7 linked regions of the Homo sapiens genome follow. The protein of the gene in region 1 purifies or fractionates together with the protein of each later gene. This does not show direct contact. Each region holds a gene or a part of one and is shown in the gene's direction. Other genes may lie near its edges.

Region 1 (3,500 bases):
TAAACCTTCATTCCAATCTATTAGCTTTTTAAATACTCTGTGAGATTGAGTTAGTTAGTACGTTATTTACAAATTTTGCATTTATGTTCGTAAGTAAAATAAACTTTTAATTCTTCCCTCCTATACTTTTTCTGATTTTGACATCAAGGTTGTACTAATCTCATAAAATGACTCGGGCAAGATTTTTTTCACTTTACACATTCTGAAGCAACTTATATATGATATTCCACATTTGCCTGAACTCATTCATAAAACCATTCTTCCCCTTCTTTTGATATACTCAGTGTTGGAAAGTGTCTCACCTTCCTGCCTTATTCCCTGCCTTGTTAACATTTTTGTCATTTTTATTCTTCCCAGAGATGTGAGTAAGGGAGCAACCCTTGGTGGCCCCCTGAGCTTGTCTCTGCAAAGTGACTTTTCCAGGCAGAGATGCCGCAGAAACAGACGGGTCTGGTTTGGCCTCTCTGGCCTGCCAGGCAGCAGCTGCACGGGAACCCCAGGGTGGCCTAAGTGATTTAGGATGAGGATCACACCTCGGCTGCCCCCTGAGGCTTTTGGGGCACTACCTTTACCTTTCTGAGTGTTCTGGAGCAAACCCCTGCCTTTCTGACCCTCAGTTTTGTCAGCTATCTCCCCAAGCTCAAAATTCTATAGGGAGAAGGGGAACTATAGCTCGAGGTTACTGCTGGAGTCGGCTTATCTAGACTCCCTCCCACCTCACCTTCCCTGCAGAGGACCTGTCAGACGAGGCTGAAAGGGACGAGTATGAGTTACTCTGCCCAGACAACACTCGGAAGCCAGTGGACAAGTTCAAAGACTGCCATCTGGCCCGGGTCCCTTCTCATGCCGTTGTGGCACGAAGTGTGAATGGCAAGGAGGATGCCATCTGGAATCTTCTCCGCCAGGCACAGGTATCTTCACCCACGGTCCTCCCCACTTGCTTGGATATGGGGGGCAGGGAGCAAGGTTTCTTACTTCCCTGACTTCTGCCACTCCAGAAGTCCTGTAGCTTTGCTGCAGGATAGCACACTAATGCATTGGGCTGCTTGCCCAGGCTGTACTGTGGACAGCAGAAGCAATGAAACTCTTCTGTCACACGGGCTGACAGCGTCTTATGATGGGAGCAGAAGCAGGGGGTGGTCGATGCAATCTTCTCAGGGCCCTAAGGTGCTTGGACCTCAGCAACTCTTCAAAGAATGAGCCATAGCTGAGCTTGGGTCTCCGAGATGGCACAAGTCCCTCTGCAGGAGGGTCTCAACCGAGGCTCCTGCTCTCAGTTAGAATGATCCCAAAGCTCCAGATACTCTTTTTTAACATCATTTTTTTGTTTCCTCCCTATTTACCATTGACACCATAATTCTATTTTTTCTTAATTAGGAAAAGTTTGGAAAGGACAAGTCACCGAAATTCCAGCTCTTTGGCTCCCCTAGTGGGCAGAAAGATCTGCTGTTCAAGGACTCTGCCATTGGGTTTTCGAGGGTGCCCCCGAGGATAGATTCTGGGCTGTACCTTGGCTCCGGCTACTTCACTGCCATCCAGAACTTGAGGAAAAGTGAGTGAGCCCAGGAGGGTCCTGAGGTCCGCCTGGTGTGGTCTTCTACTTCCCAGCAGGTGGCCCTACTTTGTGGCGGTCACTCCTTTTCCCAGACACTGTGGGGTCATCGTGGAGGTTTGATGCAGGTGTGAGTGTCTTCTGTGGATTAGGTCAGGTGTCTCTAAAAGAATAGTCTGGCCACCTGATCAGTGCACGTCAGGCTCCCCAGGCCTGGCAGAAAAATCAGTTTGCCTCCTATTAAGTGAGAAACATGAACATGAACAAAGATAGCCAGGACCCCTCCTGGATGAATCCGGGGGCCTGGATTTACCCACACTTCCCAGGCCCAGACCTTGAACTTAGTTGGGGACACCATGGTGGGGGAACTCAGCTATGGCTCCTTCTCTACTGGGGGGCTGGGGGTGGGAGTCTGGGGGAACCCAGAGGCTGCACCGTAGTTATTGGTGGTGATTGCAGGCGTTAGGGGAAGTCAGGGTTGGGCTCAAGGTCCCCTAGGCCATCTCTTGGGACTGTCACTGGTCTCTGGGTCATGGAGCGTTTATCCTCAGAGACAGAGACAATAGGCGCCTCCTGACTCTAAAGATTAATGGATAGATTAGAAGCCAGGGAACTTCTCCAAAGGAACAGAAGTGGGAAACACAGGGAGCTCTGTGGACCTGAAGAAGGGGCTTGGAGCTGAGAAGTGGAGGAGGAGAGGGTATGGGTCCACATGTCCACACATGTACTGTAGCTCCTGTTCCAGGGAGAGTCTGGGCAGGACCCTGGCTCTGGGGAGGTTGGACAACCTGGCAAAGCTCAGGTTGCCCAGCCACCTGCGGTCTTCCCTCTGGCAGGTGAGGAGGAAGTGGCTGCCCGGCGTGCGCGGGTCGTGTGGTGTGCGGTGGGCGAGCAGGAGCTGCGCAAGTGTAACCAGTGGAGTGGCTTGAGCGAAGGCAGCGTGACCTGCTCCTCGGCCTCCACCACAGAGGACTGCATCGCCCTGGTGCTGGTAGGGAGCTCCATCACAGGGGCGGGCGGTGGGCCCGGTGGAAGACCTAGGGCCTGGGCATCTGCTTAAAGTGAAGTCAACAGTCAAAGAGGCCACGGGGGCCTGGGTGAGGCAGGGATGCCTGGAGAGGTGTGCTCAGGGCCAGAAAGCATTTTAGTTTCAAAAAGCAGTTTACTGTGGGTTTCCCACTCCTCTGGTTATAAGAACAACTCAGGATTATTATAAGGAATTTGGAAAATATGGAAAGGTATTATGTTAAAACAAAACAACAACAAACCCCCCAAACCACCTGTGATCTCACACAGAGGGACAGACATGGTTAAAGTCTGGCTAATTCTCCATTCCAGTATTTCTCTGCACATCTGCAGATATGCATGCAACAATAATGAAGTGTTGCAGTATGTCGTTTTTAAGCCCTTTTCACTAAACAGCGTATAATGGGCATTCTTCCACATGAATATTTACTCTTGGAAAGCATTAATTTTTTTTTTTTTAAGAGACAGATTCTTGATCTGTCACCCAGGCTGGAGTGCAGTGGTGCGACCACATCTCACTGCAGCCTGGAACTCTTGGGCTCAAGTGATCCTCCCATCTCAGCTTCCCAAGTAGCTGGGGCTACAGGCATACGCCACCACACCTGCATAATTATTATTATTATTATTGTAGCGACAGGGTCTCGCTTTGTTGCCCAGGCTCGTCTCGAACTCCTGGGCTCAAGCAATCTTCCTGCTTCGGCCTCCCAAAGTGCTGGGATTACGGGTGTGAGCCACAGCACTCGGACGAAAACATTTTTTAAACATGCTTCCAGGATATCTTTTATGTGAATATGGCTCAGTTTAGTCATGCCCCCATTCCTCTTTGTCCCTTACTTTGCTATTATCAATAACCCTGTGGTGAGCATTCTTGAGTAGAAATCTTTGTCCACTTCTCTATTTTTAATATAGTTGTAAAAATATT
Region 2 (3,500 bases), on another chromosome or scaffold:
ACAAATGATGGTTGTGTCTGTACTGAACATGTACAAATTTTTTTTCCTTGTCATTATTTCCTAAACAATATAACAACTATTTACATAGCATGTACATTTATTAGGTATTTTAACTAATCTAGAGATGATTTAAAGTATATGGGAGATGTGCTTAGGTTATATGCAGATAACTATTTTATATAAGGGACTCCAGCATCCTTGGATTTTGGTATCTGAGGGATTCATGGAACCAGTCCCCCACAGATACTGACGAAAGACTGTAATTTTGGATTGACTGAGAAAAAGAAAAAAGCAAACTCCAGTGATCACAAATCTTTCTAGAAAAATGTTTTTGAAGGAGCATTTCTTTTTTCAGGATACTATGGAATTCATAAGAAGTTTTCAGTCAGAAGCACCATTAAAGAGAGGCATTGTTTCAGCTCAAGATGCTTCACTTCAGGAAAGAGTGTTAGCTCAGGTAAATACATGGATCCTGAAGGCTTTTAAGACATGGACATATTATATTTCTCCTTTTTTATTTAATCACTGAAAATAGGTTTCAATGAAAACTATTTTAATCTTTTTCTATAAATAAGTGTACATGGTATATAGTATTCCTGAACTCTAACCTCATCTTTTAAATGTATACAATATTTTCTTCTCTTGTGCCTAGTTGCGAGCTGCCTTGTACGGTATTCATGACATATTCTTTGTAATGGATGCAGCTGAAAGAATGTCTATTCTACATCATGATCGAGAAGTTCGCAAAGAGAAAATGCTCAGGCAAATGGTATGTTATATGATTTCTAATGAATAGAGTTCTTCTGGGTTTAGGGTAATTGATACTAAATGTCAGTTTTGGTTGACTTCAGCACCCTTCTTCTGATAATTCTTAAGCACAAGTAATTCCTGGAATTACTAGCAGCATTTAAATCTGTAGACAGATTTAAAAGAATTACATCATTTAAGAATTACATATTGTTTTCTTATTGGATTTTAGAGTTGAAGCTTTGAATGTTTTGCTCAGATGGCTTATACAATCTATCAGCTGCTCCTGATTGAATTTCCTTGAATTCAATTATAATGTGGGTTTTGCTTTTTTTGAAATCTGAGTTAGAAAACAGGCTCCAAGTTAATTTGAAGTATATCAGAGTATGTGATTTGAATCAGTTATCTTAGTGTGATTGGCAAAGGAAAAGCAAGCAAAATTTACATAATTCTAATTATTTAATTCTTAGAATTAGACTGCTTCAAAAATACAAAACAAGATGATTTAACTAAATTAAAAATGTTAGTAGAGAGAAGCTTTTCCAGGCAATGTGGGATTATAATACATTATAATATAGTGGTATTAATTGGTTCCAGTAGAGTTTGACGTTACTTTTGTATATTAAAGGATAAAATGAAAAGTCCACGAGTGGCTCTTTCAGCTGCAACACAGAAGTCTCTTGATAGGAAGAAATACATGAAGTAAGTTTTTTGTATCATGTCATGTTAGTTATCAAACCAATTAATTTTAGTCATCTGTTGGTCTATTTGCATATTTAAATTTAGAAATAAAGAGTTAATTTTTCTGCAGTTGAGCTGATAGAAATCCCCTTTATATAAAGAAATTTATTAAAATCAGGTGCTAAAATCTCATTTCATCTTAGATGAATTTATTTACTAAATTTGACAACATTCAACTCATATAACTGATAGCTGGTTAATCTTAAAAACAGTTAATCTTTATATTCAGTGCCTAAATATATTCCTTTTCTGATGTCCTAAAGGTTTCTTGGGAATAAAGACTTAATGGGAAAAATATCTTAATAACTTTTTTAAAAAATTCTTCTTTCTTGAATGCAGTCTTTAATATGCTTAGTACAGGTCTTCCAGTAGTACACCAGCTTCTAAATGATGATTTGTTTCTGTCATCCTGTATTACATTTGTAAGCATGTTTTCTTCCCTTCTCTAAATACATTATGTCCTTATTTTTATATTGTGTTAGAGCTGCTGAAATGGGAATGCCAAATAAGAAATTTCTGGTTAAACAAAATCCTTCTGAAACAAGGTGAGAAAAATCACTTAGTCTTAATGAGAGGCTTTTTGTTTTTTATAGAAAAAAAAAATTGGCTGGGCACGGTGGCTCACGCCTGTAATCCCAGAACTTTGGGAGGCCAAGACGGATGGATCACCTGAGGTCGGGAGTTTGAGACCAGCCTGACCAACATGGAAAACCCCATCTCTACTAAAAATACAAAATTAGCTGGGTGTGGTGGCACATGCCTGTAATCCCAGCTACTCAAGAGGCTGAGGCAGGAGAATCGCTTGAACCCGGGAGGCAGAGGTTGCAGTGAGCCAAGATTGCTCCATTGCACTCCAGCCTGGGCAACAAGAGTGAAACTCTATCTCAAAAAAAAAAAAAAAAAAAGTTAAAAAATTAAAATTTAAATCCCAAACTTCATTTTTGTTGACTTTGTTCTACTTGACATCAGTAGAGCACTTCTTGCTGAATTGGGTCGGGGGTCGTCCTCAGGCTCAAGATTCATACCAATACCTGGCCATATACCTAGTCACATGTCAGACCAGATGTGCCCGGACCTTTTGTAGGACATGCTATCTGTGGTAGAAATTTTGAGCGTGGTATGTCTTGAGTTCAGTTAGACAGTCCAGAGGATCTTTGATACTTATTTAAAAACCTTAGAAAGCTAATTTAAGCTGGGCTGGGAGCAGTGGCTCATGCTTGTTATCCTAGCAGTCTGGGAGGGTGAGGTGGGTGGATCACGAGGTCAGGAGTTCAAGACCAGCCTGGCCAAGATGGTGAAATCCTGTCTCTATTAAAAATACAAAAATAAAAGATACAAAAAGCCGGGTATGATGGCGCGTGCCTGCTCAGCTACTCAGGAGGCTGAGGCAGGAGAATTGTTTGAACCTGGGAGGCGGAGGTTGCAGTGAGCCGAGACTGCACCACTGTACTCCATCCTGGGCGACAGAGCAAGGGTCCGTCTCAAAAAAAAGCTAACTTAAGCTGGGCACAGTGGCATGCTCCTATGGTCCCAGGTACTCGGGAGGCTGAGGCAGGAGGATAGCTTAAGCCCAGAAATTCAAACCAGTATGGGTAACATAGTAAGACCCATCTCAAAAAAATAAATAAATAAAAAATAAAGCTAAAAAGCGAACTTTAATATTTCTGACCTGTTTTTTACTCCTGTAAAATGAGAGTGATACTTTCTTCTCTCACTGGTTTGAAGGGAAAAGTTAGCTTTTGTAAAGCATATGTATAAGAAAATTATCTAAAAGCACAAGGGTTAGTCTATATGTTGGACATTTCTTTGCTGATAAAAACCTAAGGTTTGGACTCTTAGTGAGCAAAATACAAGTATCATATTAATATGCTTTAGTCGATTTGCTCTGATTTGTGGTAATATATAGGCCATATTATTGCATAGTTGACCTTTACCTTACAGTCATCATCTTTCATCCGTTGAAAGAAAATGGGAAAAAATGGAATTTAACCTATTAAATTAATTTTTCATTT
Region 3 (2,339 bases), on another chromosome or scaffold:
TTTGCACTTTCGTCCCTCGCCGCAAGGCCGGCATCTGCTTCGTAAGTAACCGTGCCCCCACCCCGGGCACCGGGCTGCCATGAGGGGAGGAGGGCGGCGGCCAGGGTTCCACGCCACCTCTTAGCTGTGTGGCTTCATGCTGTGCCTCAGTCTCCCCACCTGGAAGGTGGGCACACCCAACACCCAACGGGCAGGCTCAGCGGGGTGGGGGCGCTCACATTGCACCTGGCTGCTTGGGTGGGTCTGGGGGTTCCCTGCCCCCCACTCCCCTCTAGGACCACAGGAAGGTGTGGGAGACCCATCCGCCCTCACCGGCGGCCCCTTCCAGAATCCAGGACTCCAGGTATCCAGCGGGAGGCCCATAAATGCCCAGTTCCTACGAAAGACCTCAGCCCCTCCCTGCTCACACTTTTTGTTTGTTTTTGAGACGGAGTGTCGCTCTGTTGTCCAGGCTGGAGTGCAGTGGTGAGATCTCAGCTCACTGCAACCTCCACCTCCCAGGTTCAAGGTATTCTCCTGCCTCAGCCTCCTGAGTAACTAGGTGCACAGGTACCTGCCACCGTGCCTGGCTAATTTTTTTGGTATTTTTAGTAGAGATGAGGTTTCTCCATGTTGACCAGGCTGGTCTTGAACTCCTGGCATCAAGTGATGCCTGGCTGGTGCTCACACATTTTAAAGAAAATTCCAGGCCAGCAGTGGTGGCTCACGCCTGTAATCTCAGCACTTTGGGAGGCCAAAGCGGAAGGATCTTTTGAGTCCAGGAGTTCAAGACCAGCCTGGGCAACATAGCAGGGTGGCATCTCTACAAATAATTTAAATATTAGCTGGGCATGGTGATGTGAGCCTGTAGGCCCAGCTACTCAGGAGGCTAAGGCAGGAGGATCACTTGAGCCTGGGGAGTTCGAGGTTGCAGTGAGCTATGATTGTGCCACTGCACTCCAGCCTGGAGAACAGAGCGAGACCCTGTCTCGAGAGAAAGACAGCCAGCTACTCGGGAGGCCGAGGCAGGAGAATCACTTGAACCCGGGAGGCAGAGGTTGCAGTGAGCCGAGATCACGGCACTGCACTCCAGCCTGGGTGACAGAGCGAGACTCTGTCGCAAACAAAACAAAAACAAAACAAAACAAAACAAAAGGAGAAAGAAAGAAAGAGATAGAGAGAGAAAGAAAGAAGAAAGAAAGAAAAAGAGAGAAAGAAAGAAAGAAAGAAAGAAAAAGAAAGAGAGAGAGAGAGAGAGAGAGAGAGAAAGAAAGAAAGAAAGTTCCATATTGGAAGCATTTTATTCTGAAACAGCTGTGGCTACCCCAGCCCCCTTCCTGGCTGCCTGGGGCCAGCCCGGGTGACTGGCTGTCCCCATCCTCCCGGGAGACTCAGGTGGCCCCTGATGGGTGACTGGCCGTCCCCATCCTCCAGGGAGACTCAGGTGGCCCCTGATGGGTGACTGGCCGTCCCTGTCCTCCAGGGAGACTCAGGTGGCCCCCTGATCTGTGATGGCATCATCCAAGGAATAGACTCCTTCGTGATCTGGGGATGTGCCACCCGCCTTTTCCCTGACTTCTTCACGCGGGTAGCCCTCTACGTGGACTGGATCCGTTCCACGCTGCGCCGTGTGGAGGCCAAGGGCCGCCCCTGAACCGCCCCTCCCACAGCGCTGGCCGGGACCCCGAGCCTGGCTCCAAACCCTCGAGGCGGATCTTTGGACAGAAGCAGCTCTTCCCCGAACACTGTGGCGTCCGGGACGGCCCCACCCGTCCCCCCACACTCCCTCCCACGGGGCTCCGGGAGACAGGCCGGCCCTGCACCTCACCCCACCGTGACCTCAATAAACGTTGAAACTCCCCCTGGCTCCTGTCTGTCCTTCCCATATAGGGAGGGGAGGGGGAACTGCCCACCGTGACCTCAATAAACGTTGAAACTCCCCCTGGCTCCTGTCTGTCCTTCCCATATAGGGAGGGAACCAGGGAGAGGTCCCCTGGGTTCAAGTCCCCGAGCCCCAAACTCAGGATGGGGGGAGTCGGAGCGGGGGATGGGGGCCCAGGTTGCAGGGGGTCTCTCTCCTGGATGCTCGTGGCTGTGGGTTCTAACCCGGCCCCATCAGGGTGGCCCTGGGCAGGTTGTTATTCATCTCCGTGCCTCAGTTTCCTCATCTGGAAAATGGACTCGCCCCAGACGTTTCCTAGAACTGTCCCTGCTGGCTCAGGGACTCCTTGAGGAAGGGGATGGGGATGGGGAAGCAGCCTGGGGGGCTTCCTGGAGGAGGTGGCAGTGCCAGAGCTGCATATCAAGGTGTGAACAGAAACATCCGAAGGGCTGCCAGGCAGGGGGCACAGTCCAGGCAG
Region 4 (3,500 bases), on another chromosome or scaffold:
TTCTCAGAGTTATTAATATGCCGTTGTGCCTTGTGAATTTCCAGGAGGAGATTATGATATGTTGTGTTTCCCAAATTTATTTTACCTTGGAATTGTTTAAGGAACACCTAGTTTTTTCCCAGAACTTTAGTGTTCTGAGAGACACAGTTTATTATTCAAGAATTTTCCATATAATGTAAACCTTCTGTAATACTAATTTTGGTTCATAGATTATTAAAGAGAAAAAACAAAGTATGAAAGGAAACTATTAATTATTAACTATTATTTTCCCCAAAATCACTAAAGCCTTTTAAATGTTAATAAAGAACACATCTCATTCTCTTTAATGACAAGTGTCATTTATTGAGAGTATTTTCTCACAGTTTTGCAAGTTTTTCAGCAATGACCCTAAATTTTATTTCTTGGAAACCACACCCAAATCCTGGGTGCTCAATTGAAATAAAACAATACCCTAGTCAATATAACATGCTTGTTAGCATCTTTATTATTTAATATAGTGGGTCAGGAAAACATTCTTGTTATCTAGGTGTGATTTTTAAATTGGGGAGAATAAAGAATTACCATCTAATCTAAGTATTTTTTCTTTCTCTCCATATTTAGTTCTTAAACACTTCCAGTAACCATGAAAACTCAGACTTGGAAATGCCTTCTTTAACTTCCACCCCCCTCATTGGTCACAAATTGACTGTTACAACACCATTTCATAGAGACCAGACTGTGAAAACTCAAAAGGAAAATACTGTGTAAGTCTTTGGTTCAGGAATAAAATGATTTATCTTATTTACTTATATTTAATTAATGGAATATAGTTCCCAGATGTCTGATCCACTTGTATGTGCATAATTTTACTGACCATTTATATATAATCATGTCTATTCCCACATTGAATATATCTGTCCTGGGCATATTACAACTACCTACAGGTAGAAGATGGGAAGATAAACTAGATTCCTTTTGTAACTTACTCCAAAATTTCCTATATATGCACAAGTAGTTTTCATAAAACTTTTCCATTCGGTTTGTTTGTTCCCTCCATAAGGCCTTCTTATGAAAGCCAGATTTTCAACCTCCTTTCCTCTCTAATTGTAAGCTTCAGAATAAGAACGAGTATGGTTTCTTACCTAGTTTGTATTTTTATTTAATTTTATTTGTTTATTATTTATTTATTTTTAGTTTGTATTTTTTAATCTTATTTTTTCTTTTTGAATTTATGTGTAGATAGGACCTCTTCTGACATCCCCAGGAATATTATATGATTAGAAGCCAAGGGATGAGTAAGCAGTCATTTTTATTCAATAAAGCCTTAATCAATTCAGAGAAATGGTAGAGAAAGTGTGAATTATCAGAAACCTTGAAAAGAAATGCACTGTTATTTCGAAGTACAAAAAGTAAATTTTAAAAGTTTAACATGTTTTGTAGTATGGGCTCTGTTTTCATGAATAGGGAAACCTGATTTGTAAATGACATCAGGTCTTCTTGATGCTCATAGTCTTATACAGATCATAGGCACTACATGTGTCTTCAGAGCCATTAAGGAAAGATGTTAAATCATTTAATGCTTTTAGTCTTCGAGGTATAATATTTTGAAATATTTGAAAATATGTGATATGCATATTCTCTTTTTCTTAACGAATAACGTGATTAATCAGCACACCCCAATTCCATATCCGGAACAGAGTTTATTGTATTCAGTGGAAAAATGTTAAATGTAACAGGTAAAGCCATGTAGGGACATTTATTCTTTTGTATTGAGCCACTGCTTGTTTTCTTTTTAAAGTTTTAGAACCCCAGCTATCAAAAGGTCAATCTTAGAAAGCTCTCCAAGAACTCCTACACCATTCAAACATGCACTTGCAGCTCAAGAAATTAAATACGGTCCCCTGAAGATGCTAGTAAGTTCTAGAAAAGTTTTTGGATTTCATTGGTTTATTAGTCCCATTAGGAGTTCTCTCTGATGCAAAAATACCCACTCTTCCGTTTAGCCTCAGACACCCTCTCATCTAGTAGAAGATCTGCAGGATGTGATCAAACAGGAATCTGATGAATCTGGAATTGTTGCTGAGTTTCAAGAAAATGGACCACCCTTACTGAAGAAAATCAAACAAGAGGTAAACACGCAACCCTTTGGAAGCAACAAGCTGAGAATCCTGCCCCCTTTATTCCTTGTGTGCAGCTTGATGTGTCTGCCATTGGCACTGTGCAACACCACGACTTTTCGTGCAAGATTTTCATACAAGGTGCAGCGAAAAGGTACTGCCAGACTGTAGGCATCATCAACCTTTCCTTTGGGAAGCCAAGCCATCTCTATCTACTTCATGTTTGGACAGAAAACATACTAGAGAGTATCAAGAAAAGGGAGGGAAAGAGGTTTTTAATGTACTTTTAAACATTACTGATTATATAAAGTTGATATTTCATTTTTAGATGTGAAGAATTGGAATTTAAATTAAAATAATAGTATCTTTAATTAATTGTATTAAAAAAAGGGAGGCTGGGCGCGGTGGCTCATACCTGTAATCCCAGCACTTTGGGAGGCTGAGGTGGGCAGATCACAAGGTCAGGAGTTCGAGATCATCCTGGCTAACATGGTGAAACCCCGTATCCACTAAAAATACAAAAAAATTAGCTGGGTTTGGTGGCGGGCGCCTGTAGTCCCAGCTACTCAGGAGTCTGAAGCAGGATTATGGTGTGAACCCGGGAGGCAGATCTTGCAGTGAGCCAAGATCGTACCACTGCACTCCAGCCTGGGAGACAGCAAGACTCCGTCTCAAAAAAAATAAAAATTAAAATTAAAAAAGAGAATCTAACCTGCAAGGATCAAAGTTTTAGCTTGTTGGCAACAGCTGTTTTCCACCAGGTTAGATACAGTGCTTCTTGAATTTATTTTCATGTAAAGATAAGTATTTTTTTTTATAGCTAAAAATCTGATTTGATTATTTAGTAATGGAGAATTTTACCAGAATGTGATTAAAAACCAGTCTTTTGTCACCAAAAGATCTTTTATGTCACCAAAATAAAATCCTTGACGGATACAACACTACTAGGTGTATCATTAAAATATATTCTTAATAGAATAAACACCTAGAATCAGAACATTGGTTGAAAACGTAGGAGCTTTACAGGGGCAGTAAATTTGGAGCTAGTCACATTTCAAATTTGCCATCAGTGTTTCTTTGTTGAATCCAGAAGATAGAGCAAATTGAGCTGATAGTGTAAGTTAGCAACATAGTTTTATAAAAGTATTTGAGGGACTGGCCAGAAATATACTCCTGACTGTACATGTTTCATAGGAAGTTCTAGAAACAACAAAGCACTTTCTATATGCTTTTAGGTGGAATCTCCAACTGATAAATCAGGAAACTTCTTCTGCTCACACCACTGGGAAGGGGACAGTCTGAATACCCAACTGTTCACGCAGACCTCGCCTGTGGCAGATGCACCGGTAAGTACGTGTGCACCAGCCCCCAAGTTGTTATGTGACACTGGTGCCTCATGAAATC
Region 5 (3,500 bases), on another chromosome or scaffold:
TCTGTCACCTAGGCTGGAGTTCAGTGGCACGATCTTGGCTCACTGCAACCACCACCTCCTGGGTTCAAGCTATCCTCCCACCTCAGCCACCCAAGTAACTGGGACTACAGGCGCCTGCCGCCATGCCCTAATTTTTGTATTTTTAGTAGAGACACGGTTTCACCATGTTGGCCAGCCTGGTCTTGAACTCCTGACCTCAAGTGATCTGCCCACCTCGGCCCCACAAAATGCTGGGATTATAGGCGTGAGCCACTGCGCCCCACTCAAAGAGCTGGTGTTAATCATGGACTTGCAGTCACCCCAAGTTAATAAGCAAGCCCAAGATCCCCTTCAAGCCAATATTCTTTAAAATATTTATTCAATATTTATAGAAAGGAGAGACTTTTGGGGGCAGCCCAACCTCTGCTCTGTTGAGGAGGTAGATGGGTAAGAGCCCCCATCTACTGGCTGTAAGAACTTAGGGCAATCTAGGCCGGGCACCGGTGGCTCATGCCTGTAATCCCAGCACTTTGGGAGGCCAAGGCAGGTGGATCACGAGGTCAGGAGTTCAAGACCAGCCTGGCCAAGATGGTGAAACCCCATCTCTACTAAAAATACAAAAATTAGCTGGGCGTGGTGGCGGGTACCTGTAATCCCAGCTACTCAGGAGGCCGAGGCAGAGAATTGGCTGAACCCGGGAGGTGGAAGTTGCAGTGAGCCGAGATTGCACCACTGCCCTTCAGCCTGGGCGACAGAGCGAGACTCTGTCTCAAAAAAAAAAAAAAAAAAAAAAAAAGGAACTTAGGGAGGTCTGTAAAAAGGGGACAACCACAACAATAAACAATAAAAATAACAGTCCCTACCTTATAGAATTGCTGTAAGATTAAAATAGGTTAATCTGCATAGGATTTGGCCTTGTGCTTCAATAAATGTCAGTAGTTGGTGGCAGTGGTGTTTCTACTATCCAAAGTAATTCAGCAGCTCTAACCTTAAACTTAAACTTGCAAAACCTGCTCCGAAGGTACAGGGCCCCCCCTGCCTGAAAGGGCATCTGTTATTACTCCAGCATGCCTCTTGGGGCCTCATTCTCCCCCTAAATTCCTTGCAAACACTTAAGGCACTATCCCAAAGAAGAAGAATTTTTTTTTTTTTGAGACAGTCTCACTCGGTCACCCAGGCTGGAGGGTGGTGGCATGATCTTGGCTCACTGCAACCTCCACCTCCTGGGTTCAAGCAATGCTCCTGCCTCAGCCTTCTGAGTAACTGGGATGACAGGTGCGTACCACCACACCTGGCTAATTTTTTGTATTTTTAGTAGAGACAGGGTTTCACCACGTTGGCCAGGCTGGTCTTGAACTCCTGACCTCAAGTGATCCTCCCGCCTCAGCCTCCCAAAGTGCTGGGATTACAGGCGTGAGCCACTGTGCCTGGCCCAGATAGGAATTCTTGGAAATAGCATTGTCTCCATCCTGTTACTCTCCTGCGGTGTTTTGGGGCCCTCTTGAACATCCCCGGGATGTGGATATCACAATTCTCAGTGGCTGGACGAAATAATTGCCGAGAAGGTTTTTTTCTGGCTTGAAGGCCTTCAAACCATTATGAGCCTGGGCACCCTTTTCCTGTGTTACAGGCCCATCATCCTGGATCCGGCCGACCCCACCCTCAACGTGGCAGAAGGGTACAGATGGGACATCGTTGCTCAGAGGGCCTCCCAGTGCCTGAAACAGGACTGTTGCTATGACAACAGGGAGAACCCCATCTCCAGCTGGAACGTGAAGGTAATGGCTCCTCTCTGGGCTGTCAAGGGCTTGAAGGTCAGAACGACAGATAAACTACTCAGTATTTACTCATTCAGTTCTGTGTTGATGGAGAACAGAACTTTAGAGTCACCGTTTAAGGGCCAGCTGCACCACCCATGGGCTCCGTGAACTTGGACAAATTCTTTGGCTCTCAGAGCCTTGGGTTTCTTACCTTCAAATTCTTGTTCTCCTTTCCTTTCTTTTTCCCATAATTTACTGGAGAATCAGTTCTGTGTTCCTGATCATTCTTTGCGTGAGTTGGGTCCAGCCAAGTCAGCTCAATCAGCCATTCTGTGCCAGTGCTGTTCTCAGGGATGGGGTAGGGGATGTGGGCTGGGGGACAACACAGGCACAGAAATAAGACATGACCACGACGCTCGGCCAGGTGCGGTGGTTCACGCCTGTAATCCCAGCACTTTGGGAGGCCAAGACAGGTGGATCACTTGAGGTCAGGAGTTCAAGACCAGCCCGGCCAACATGGAAAAAACCCATCTCTACTAAAAAAATACAAAATTAGGCGGGCGTGGTGGCAGGTGCCTATAATCCCTGCTACTCCGGAGGCAGAGGCAGGTGAATCGCTTGAACCCGGGAGCTGGGGGCTGCAGTGAGCTGAGATCGTGCCATTGCACTCCAGCCTGGACAGCAAGAGGGAAACTCTGCCTCAAAAAAAAAAGAAAAAAAGAAAAAAAAAAGACACCACCCTCACTCTCAGAGAACTCACCCTATGTTGTCAGGAAGCAAATCCATGAAACAAACTTACACAAAACTGCTAGAATTACCAGAGAAGACAAGATACTCTGAAAACAAACAAACAAACAAAAAATACTAAGTCATATTATTATATGATGCCAAACCTATAGTATAGGCAGAGATCACAAAAATCTATTTTATTAACATCACACTTTCTAGTGTGCAAAGCTCTTGTCCAAGGTCTGTCTCAGTTGATCCTCATAAGCAATTCTGTAAAGTAAGAAGGTCGAGTGTTATCACTATCTTTATTATTATTATCATCATTACTATTATTGCCATTTTACAGAAGAGAAAACTGAGGCTCAGAGAGGTTAATTAACTAAGGGCACTCTGCTAAGAGGCAGCAGAACCAGGGGCTCTGGGGGTCTGGAAGCAGAATAAATGTTAACTGAAGTCACCAGAGAAGATTCCTTTAAAAAGTTAGGAGTTGAAATGAGCCCTAAAGGCCGGGGGGAGATATAGACACTCAGAACAGAGGACAAAGGATGATGAGGGGTAAAGGATGGGAGGCTGGGATGAGCAAGATGTGTACAGGACAGGAGACTGAACTGCTTGGAGCAGAAGGCAGAAGCAGAATCAGAGGCTCCAGTAAGGTACATAGAGTATAAACGGGGGGACCCGCTGGCCAAATGAGGAGGCCCACCCATGGGCTGGAAAATATACGCCTCTGGATTTTTCCTGAATATAAAAGCCATTGTAGGCTGGGGGCAGTGGCGCACGCCTGTAATCACAGCACTTTGAGGGGCTGAGGCGGGTGGATCCCTTGAGCCCAACAGTTCAAGACCAGCCTAGGCAACATGGTGAAACCCCGTCTCTACTAAAAATACAAAACTTGGCCAGGTGCGGTGGCTCACATCTGTAATCCCAGCACTTTGGGAGGCCGAGGTGGGCAGATCACGAGGTCAAGAGATCGAAACCATCCTGGCCAACATGGTAAAACCTCATCTCTACTAAAAATACAAAAATTAGCTG
Region 6 (3,500 bases), on another chromosome or scaffold:
ATTTTTATAAAAGTCAATGCATATAGCACCTGTTGGGTTATTTTGTATAATTAAAATGTACCCTAAAAAAAATCCCACCTTAGCCAGGTGTGGTAGCTCACGCCTGTAATCCCAGCACTTTGGGAGGCTGAGGCAGGCGGATCAGCTGAGGTCAGGAGTTCAAGACCAGCCTGGCCAACATGGTGAAACCACGTTGGTAGGCGCCTGCAATCCCAGCTACTGGGGAGGCTGAGGCAGGAGAATCGCTAGCACCTAGGAGCAGGAGGCTGCAGTGAGAGCCGATCGTGCCACTGCACTCTAGCCTGGGCAACAGAATGAGACTGCATCTCAAAACAAAACAAAAACCAAAAAATTCACTTAGTATTGTTATAATCTGGAGTTTAATTTAGTATTTCTGTGTTTATCTCATACTCACACCTGTTCCTCAAGGCTAAGAACTTGTCTAAAATGCTGCATGTTCTCTTTATGTAAGTTTTAATGTTGAAGTAGTAGGATAGTATTCACCTATTTCTATTTGAAGGAAAACCCCAGAGAACATTTTATTTCCTTTGTTATGTTTCTCAAGGTTAAAAGGTTATATAGTAAGGTATAAGATAGTTTCATAGAAAATCAAGGAAATTTGTGGATCTTTAAGGCCATCAGTAATTGTATTTTATCTTATTTTATTTTTGAGACAGAGTCTCCCTCTGGCTTCCACGCTGGAGTGCAGTGGTGCAGTCTTGGCTCACTGCAATCTCCACCTCCCGGATTCAAGCGGTTCTCCTGTCTGAGCCTCCCGAATAACTAGGATTACAGGGGTGCACCACCATTCCCTGCTGATTTTTGTATTTTTAGTAGAGATGGGGTTTCACCATGTTGGCCAGGCTGATCTCGACTTCCTGGCCTCGAGTGATCCACTCGCCTTGGCCTCTCAAAGTGTTGGGATTACAGGCGTGAGCCACTACACTAGGCCTATTTTTACACATTATTTTATAATATAAATATATTTAATGTTACATATTATATAAATATAAATAAATATGTATTCATTATATGTGTCTTTTCAATTTGTTGAGACTTTTTGACAACCTTGAAACTGGTGTATTCATTTTCACTTTTAAGGCATTACAGGCATGAGCCACTGCACCCGGGCCTATTTTTACACATTGTGTTACAGGTGTATTTAATGTTACATATTATATAATTATAAATAAATATGTATTCATTATATATATCTTTTCAATTTATTCTTGTTGGCAACCTTGAAACTAGTGTATTCATTTTCACTTTTCTTTTTTTTTTTTTTGAGACGGAGTTGCTATGTCACCCAGGCTGGAGTGCAGTGCCGCTCTCAGCTCATTGTAACCTCTGCCTCCCAGGTTCAAGTGATTCTCCTGCCTCAGCCTCCTGAGTAGCTGGGATTACAGGTGCCCGCCACCACACCTGGCTAATTTTTGTATTTTTAATAGAAACGGGGTTTCACCATGTTGGCCAGGCTGGTCTCGAACCTGCCTCGGCCTCCCAAAGTGTTGGAATTACAGGCATGAGCCACCACCCAGCATCATTTTTCATTTTTTAAGTATGTTTATTGATTTTTTTTCCTTGGCATTTTGACATTGACAGTAAAGAAGAGATGTAAACAATGTTTTGGGGGCTTTGCCTATTCACCCATATTTGCATTCTGTATCTTAACAAAGATAGTGGTTCTCAGCCACTTTTTTGCCTTTCTACCCAAGGAATACAAAATACTTCCAACAGTAGTAGTGGCTTATTACCACAGAGATTCTCAACAAGACTGGTAGGGAAAGACAGGGAGAAATAATTGTAATTGGCAAAATACCATATGGACTTTGGTTATTTTTGTAATATATAGTATTTTTATCTATAATATTGACCATAAGTTTATAAATATATTCCCTAAATATTCTTTAGTTTGCTAGCAGAACCGAAACCTTTGTCATTCTAATTTTTTTAGCTTTGCTCCAATGTTATAGCTTTGGTTTTTCTAATTTTACTGTTCGGGCTAGTATGTTTGCTTGCATTTATTTATTTATTTATTTATTTATTTATTTATTTATTTATTTATTTTTTGAGACAGAGTCTCGCTCTGTTGCCCAGGCTGGAGTGCAGTGGCACGATCTTGGCTCACTGCAAGCTCCGCCTCCCAGGTTCATGCCATTCTCCTGCCTCAGCCTCCCAAGTAGCTGGGACTACAGGCACCCACCACCACGCCCGGCAAATTTTTTAATATTTTTAGTAGAGACGGGGTTTCACCGTGTTAGCTAGGATGGTCTCGATCTTCTGACCTTGTGATCCGCCCACCTCGGCCTCCCAAAGTGCTGGGATTACAGGCATGAGCCACTGCACCCAGCCTGCTTTTATTTATTAAACGTGTCGGAACAATTTTTTTATATATCAACTTGTTTTGCCATACTAACAAATAATTGTGTTCATTATTTTTGTTTTCTTCTAGTTTGTGCATATATATTGCAGTTTTTACAGAATTATATCAAATAAGTTTTATTTTACTTTTATAGCATTGTATTTTTCCATGTTGTATAACCTTTATGATATTTGATTGTTACTTGATAGTTGAAAAATAAGTATTAAATTTGTTCTAAATGCCTGACAGGAAAATAATAGTTTTCAGTTTATGCCTATTTTGACATTGAATTGAACATCTCTGTGCATTTTTTCTTTTATGAATTGTTTCTATAGGATACTAATCTCAAATGAATTACTAGTCAAAGGATATAAATGTTTCTACAGTTGCCAGATTTTTGCCTCCCCAAAGACTTGAGCGAGTTTACACTGTCAGCAGAGCATGAATGCGTTAGCTTTGCCATACTTTTGTGAACTTGGGAGTTATGATTAATGAAGCGTGATTACCTAATTGGGAATTATTTCTGGGAATAAGTTGTATTATTTAGCAGTTTTAAAATTATTTAGTTGGCCATATCATACTATAGTTATTTATCTACCAGTGATCTATGTGATGTGACAAATATTGTGTATTTCATATTTTCTGACATTTTACTGTCTTTGTTTCTTTTAAAGTTTACCAAAACTTTTGACAGACTGGTAACAATAATTCTTAGATTTCATGCAGTTTTATGTGGTTTGTACACTGAGTATTTTAATGCTAGTTTAAGAGTTAATTTCTGGGCTGGGCATGGTGGCTCATGCCTGTAATCCCACCATTTTGGGAGGCCTAGGCAGGTGGATCACCTGAGGTCAGGAGTTCGAGACCAGCCTGGCCAATGTGAGAAAACACCATCTCTACTAAAAATACAAAAATTAGCTGGGCATGATGGCGGGTGCCTGTAATCTCAGCTACTCGGGAGACTGAGGCAGGAGAATTGCTCGAACCTGGGAGGCAGAGGTTGCAGTGAGCCAAGATCACGCCAGTGCACTCTATCCTGGGCAACAGAGCGAGACGGTGTCTCAAAAAAAAAAAAAAAGAGTTACTTTCTGAACTATACATTTCATAGTTCTGTCTTATGAATGTGTCATTATGATTT
Region 7 (3,500 bases), on another chromosome or scaffold:
AAATGCAGGCCCAGTGAATCTCCCCATGCCTGGACACAGTTCCGTCAAGCCAGGACCCGGTGCTGCCTGCACCCCTGTTTCTGTTAGTCTGACTGTCCTCGCTGAGTCTAACTCCTTGAGGGCAGAGAGGATGTCTTATTTATTTCTGCCCCGCTAGCCGTGTAAACTGAGTAGGTACTTGTAAATGTTCATTGAATAAGTACCTGATTAATAGAATTTAATTCAAGAAGAATGTATTGATGGGCCTGTGTGGTCACCACAGTACTGAGATGTAGGTGGGAGCTGGCTGAAGGGGGAGGCACCTAAACAGGAGTGCAGACAGCGGCACCTACGGATGATGGCCCGCTCCATCCCACCGCAGCGAAATTGTCCCAGACCTCTGCAGCTTCCCCCACACCTAGACTGAGAGAGAGCTCTTCTTCCTTCTGTAGGGAGCAGGTGTTTCCTCCAGATGTCCAATATGTACCTCCCATTACAGCGGTGTTAGGAAGGTGAGGGCTGCCGCTGAAAGGGTCCCCTTCATAATCATCACTAGATTTGGGGTATATTATGGATTAAATAGAATTTTTATAAGATGACCTGAGGATCTATTTAAATAAAATCCTCTTTCTTTCTGCAAGATCATGGATTTAAATTCAACACAACTGACTTCATAGGGAAGGGGTATGGTGAAAGGGAAGTGAGGTGGGCAGCACTGATATTTAACAAGGTGAGGGTCCTTCTCCTGCTCTGACTGTCACATTAAAATATTCCCAGGAGAAATTGGAGAAAACTCAGATGAAATATCGTCTGTGTTCCAGGAGGCAGGACTCATCGGAATGCTTTTATTTTGCTCCATTTTAAGAGATTTGCAGATAAAGAGGAGTGAAGATTTCTATTCAGATTTACTTGCTTTATATTTTAACTTATAGACCACAAGCCAACTTTCGAAAGAGCATCATTTTGAATAGTAAGAGTTAGGAAGGCAAATACAGAAGGACTAATGGCTTCCAAGATTATGAGCTTCATAGGAATGGTTTGAGATGAGGCTATAGTAAAGCAGAATATTGAAGTTCCCCCACCCCCTTTCATTTTTCATTTTTCATTTTTAAGAGTGAGCGAGGCCAGGCGTGGAGGCTCACACCTGTAATCCCAGCACTTTGGGAGGCCGAGGTGGGCAGATCACAAGGTCAGGAGTTTGAGACCAGCCTGGCCATCATGGTGAAACCCTGTCTCTACTAAATGTACAAAAATTAGCCAGGCTTGGTATCAGGTGCCTGTAATCCCAGCTACTCAGGAGGCTGAGGCAGGAAAATTGCTTGAACCCAGGAGTCGGAGGTTGCAGTGAGCTGAGATCGCACCACTGCACATCTCAGAAAAAAAAAGAGTGAGGCCCCAAGTTTTTTTGCATTTGTTTGTAACTGAATACGTCTGAAGTTATGTGATAACCACGCCAAGGTGACAAATTGCCAAGTTTCAGTAAAAGAGACCCAGTTATTTAGAGGTTGACACGTGGATATGTCCCTTTCTAAGAAGTTCGTGGTCAGCTTTACATGAGTATTTAAATGCGTGTTTATAATTCAGCAATATGGCTTGTAAAATACAGATTGCCAATCAAGTGACATGCAAATCTTGATGATCTGAAACAAGTTTTCTTCTGTTATCTATGGAAGAAATGGTAATAGGGATATTTAAGTGGGATGAATTTTTTGAAGCATTTTCAGGCAGTTTTCCACATGGAACAAAATAACATTGAGTGGGCTGCTAACATGAGGAACATATTGCCCTCTGCCTAGGATTATGAGTAAATTTGATAAATTCTAGACTGCAGTCTCATTTTAGCTCATTTTATGAGGCAGCTTGACAACTGGGATAGTGTCTCTTTTTTTTGTCGGGGGTGTTGAGGCTGGAGTCTCGCTCTGCTGCCCAGGCTGGAGTGCACTGGCGTGATCTCGGCTCACTGCAACCTCTGCCTCCGGGGTTCCAGTGGTTCTCCTACCTCAGCCTCCTGAGAAGCTGGGATTGTAGGCATGTGCCACCACGCCCGGCTAATTTTTGTATTTTTTAGTGGAGACGGGCTTTCACCATGTTGGCCAGGCTGGGTCTCAAACTCCTGACCTGAAGTGATCTGCCCGCCTCAGCCACCCTAAGTACTGGGATTACAGGCATGAGCCACCACACCTGGCTTCTGTTCTATCTGTGCATTGGGGATGAAATTAACACAAATGATGTTTAAAGAAAAAAATGCTCAGAGAAGTTAGAAATGTGCTTTAAATTGGAATCATCTCTTAGTATGTAAAAGTTTTTTGTAATAGAAACAAGCAGGGCAGTATTTGACCTGTTGACAGTGTCCTTGGACTTTACAATTTGTGAAGCAGCGTATTTTGCTTGAGTTGTACGATTGTCGTTTTTTTCCCCCCACTTTGACAACTGTTACAGAACCTGTCACCAGATACAGGCAAGGGAGGTTGGGCTTCCCATCTCTGCACGGCTTCCCTGTGATTCACAAGCAAGCAATCAGAAGTGCACAAAAGTTTAGAACGCGATTTTCATTCTCTTCTTTCCTTAGAAAAACTCGCTTTGTTAGCCTTTTCCAGAAAGGAAGGCACTCAATTGTTGTAATACTCAAATCATAAAAAGAAGCCTAGTCTAGTCTATTCAGCAAGGTGTTCTGAAAGAGGGAATTTTTTAAGTTCAATTATGCGAAGATCTTGAAGGTGGGACTCAAAGGAGAGGGCTATCCTGGGAAGAAGGCTTTGGAAAATGAGAGGCATGAAGGGGAGAGGGTATTTAAATGTGTTTGAAGCCAAGGATCCTTGAGAGAAAAAGCTGGCACTAACAGCGTTCAAAGAACTTGCGTGACAAGTGATGACTAATGACACTGAGGGTGGGTTGTGGGTGCCTAGTGAATTCCTCCGAAGCCAAGAGAGAGGTTTCCAGACCCAGGGAAGAAGGTGTGTACACCCAGAAGTAGTGTAGGGACAGAGATTCCGATCACAAGCTGTGACTGGAAGACGCCGACCACCACTGCAGCAGCCTGAAAACCACAGTCTTGAACCGCCAGCGAAGGGCTGGGAAGTGCGGATCCAGGGCTGGTGCACTGAACCCAGAGGAGCAGGCTCCCATTCCCAGCTAAGGGTGGCAGCTGGCGGGGATCTTTCCAGCAGAAAGCTGTAAGTGGAAGCTTTCAATTCAGAGCAGTAGCAATGCCTTCAAAGTCCCAGGCTTCACGTGGGAACAGAGAATGTGAAGAGTATTTAGCAGGATGCCAATATAAGAAATCTATATTGGTGTTCGTTTGTTTGTTTTTGAGATGGAGTCTCGCTCTGTCACCCAGGCCGGAGTGCAGTGGTGCGATCTCAGCTCACTGCAATCTCTGCCTCCTGGGTTCAAGCGATTCTCCTGCCTCAGCCTCCTACATAGCTGGTACTACAGGCACGCGCCACCATGCCTGGCTAAATTGTTGTATTTTTAGTAGAGATGGGGTTTCACCACGTTGGCCAGGCTGGTCTCAAACTCCC

The links.
Region 2: the proteins of LTF (region 1) and CCP110 purify together in Homo sapiens (co-immunoprecipitation; one large-scale study listed by IntAct). This does not show direct contact.
Region 3: the proteins of LTF (region 1) and PRTN3 purify together in Homo sapiens (affinity purification with mass spectrometry, with the first as the bait; one large-scale study listed by BioGRID). This does not show direct contact.
Region 4: the proteins of LTF (region 1) and MYB purify together in Homo sapiens (co-immunoprecipitation; one large-scale study listed by IntAct). This does not show direct contact.
Region 5: the proteins of LTF (region 1) and OASL purify together in Homo sapiens (pull-down; one large-scale study listed by IntAct). This does not show direct contact.
Region 6: the proteins of LTF (region 1) and ATF2 purify together in Homo sapiens (co-immunoprecipitation; one large-scale study listed by IntAct). This does not show direct contact.
Region 7: the proteins of LTF (region 1) and PPARA purify together in Homo sapiens (co-immunoprecipitation; one large-scale study listed by IntAct). This does not show direct contact.

What each region holds. Positions count from the first base shown.
Region 1 is NC_000003.12:46,447,906-46,451,405, reverse strand, and holds part of LTF (lactotransferrin isoform 1 preproprotein), read left to right. Parts: intron 1-732; coding exon 733-911; intron 912-1,377; coding exon 1,378-1,552; intron 1,553-2,388; coding exon 2,389-2,543; intron 2,544-3,500. UniProt on the Homo sapiens protein: Transferrins are iron binding transport proteins which can bind two Fe(3+) ions in association with the binding of an anion, usually bicarbonate. Lactoferricin binds to the bacterial surface and is crucial for the bactericidal functions.
Region 2 is NC_000016.10:19,544,442-19,547,941, forward strand, and holds part of CCP110 (centriolar coiled-coil protein of 110 kDa), read left to right. Parts: intron 1-355; coding exon 356-457; intron 458-652; coding exon 653-769; intron 770-1,375; coding exon 1,376-1,449; intron 1,450-1,970; coding exon 1,971-2,033; intron 2,034-3,500.
Region 3 is NC_000019.10:846,337-848,675, forward strand, and holds the end of PRTN3 (myeloblastin precursor), read left to right. Parts: coding exon 1-41; intron 42-1,413; coding exon of another isoform or gene 1,414-1,434; exon of another isoform or gene 1,435-1,462; coding exon 1,463-1,633; 3' UTR 1,634-1,839; downstream 1,840-2,339. UniProt on the Homo sapiens protein: Serine protease that degrades elastin, fibronectin, laminin, vitronectin, and collagen types I, III, and IV (in vitro).
Region 4 is NC_000006.12:135,198,308-135,201,807, forward strand, and holds part of MYB (transcriptional activator Myb), read left to right. Parts: intron 1-600; coding exon 601-743; intron 744-1,218; exon of another isoform or gene 1,219-1,274; intron 1,275-1,777; coding exon 1,778-1,892; intron 1,893-1,982; coding exon 1,983-2,108; exon of another isoform or gene 2,109-2,250; intron 2,251-3,331; coding exon 3,332-3,442; intron 3,443-3,500. UniProt on the Homo sapiens protein: Transcriptional activator; DNA-binding protein that specifically recognize the sequence 5'-YAAC[GT]G-3'. Plays an important role in the control of proliferation and differentiation of hematopoietic progenitor cells.
Region 5 is NC_000012.12:121,022,247-121,025,746, reverse strand, and holds part of OASL (2'-5'-oligoadenylate synthase-like protein), read left to right. Parts: intron 1-1,609; coding exon 1,610-1,757; intron 1,758-3,500.
Region 6 is NC_000002.12:175,161,704-175,165,203, reverse strand, and holds part of ATF2 (cyclic AMP-dependent transcription factor ATF-2), read left to right. Parts: intron 1-3,500. UniProt on the Homo sapiens protein: Transcriptional activator which regulates the transcription of various genes, including those involved in anti-apoptosis, cell growth, and DNA damage response.
Region 7 is NC_000022.11:46,157,026-46,160,525, forward strand, and holds part of PPARA (peroxisome proliferator-activated receptor alpha), read left to right. Parts: intron 1-3,500. UniProt on the Homo sapiens protein: Ligand-activated transcription factor. Key regulator of lipid metabolism. Activated by the endogenous ligand 1-palmitoyl-2-oleoyl-sn-glycerol-3-phosphocholine (16:0/18:1-GPC). Activated by oleylethanolamide, a naturally occurring lipid that regulates satiety.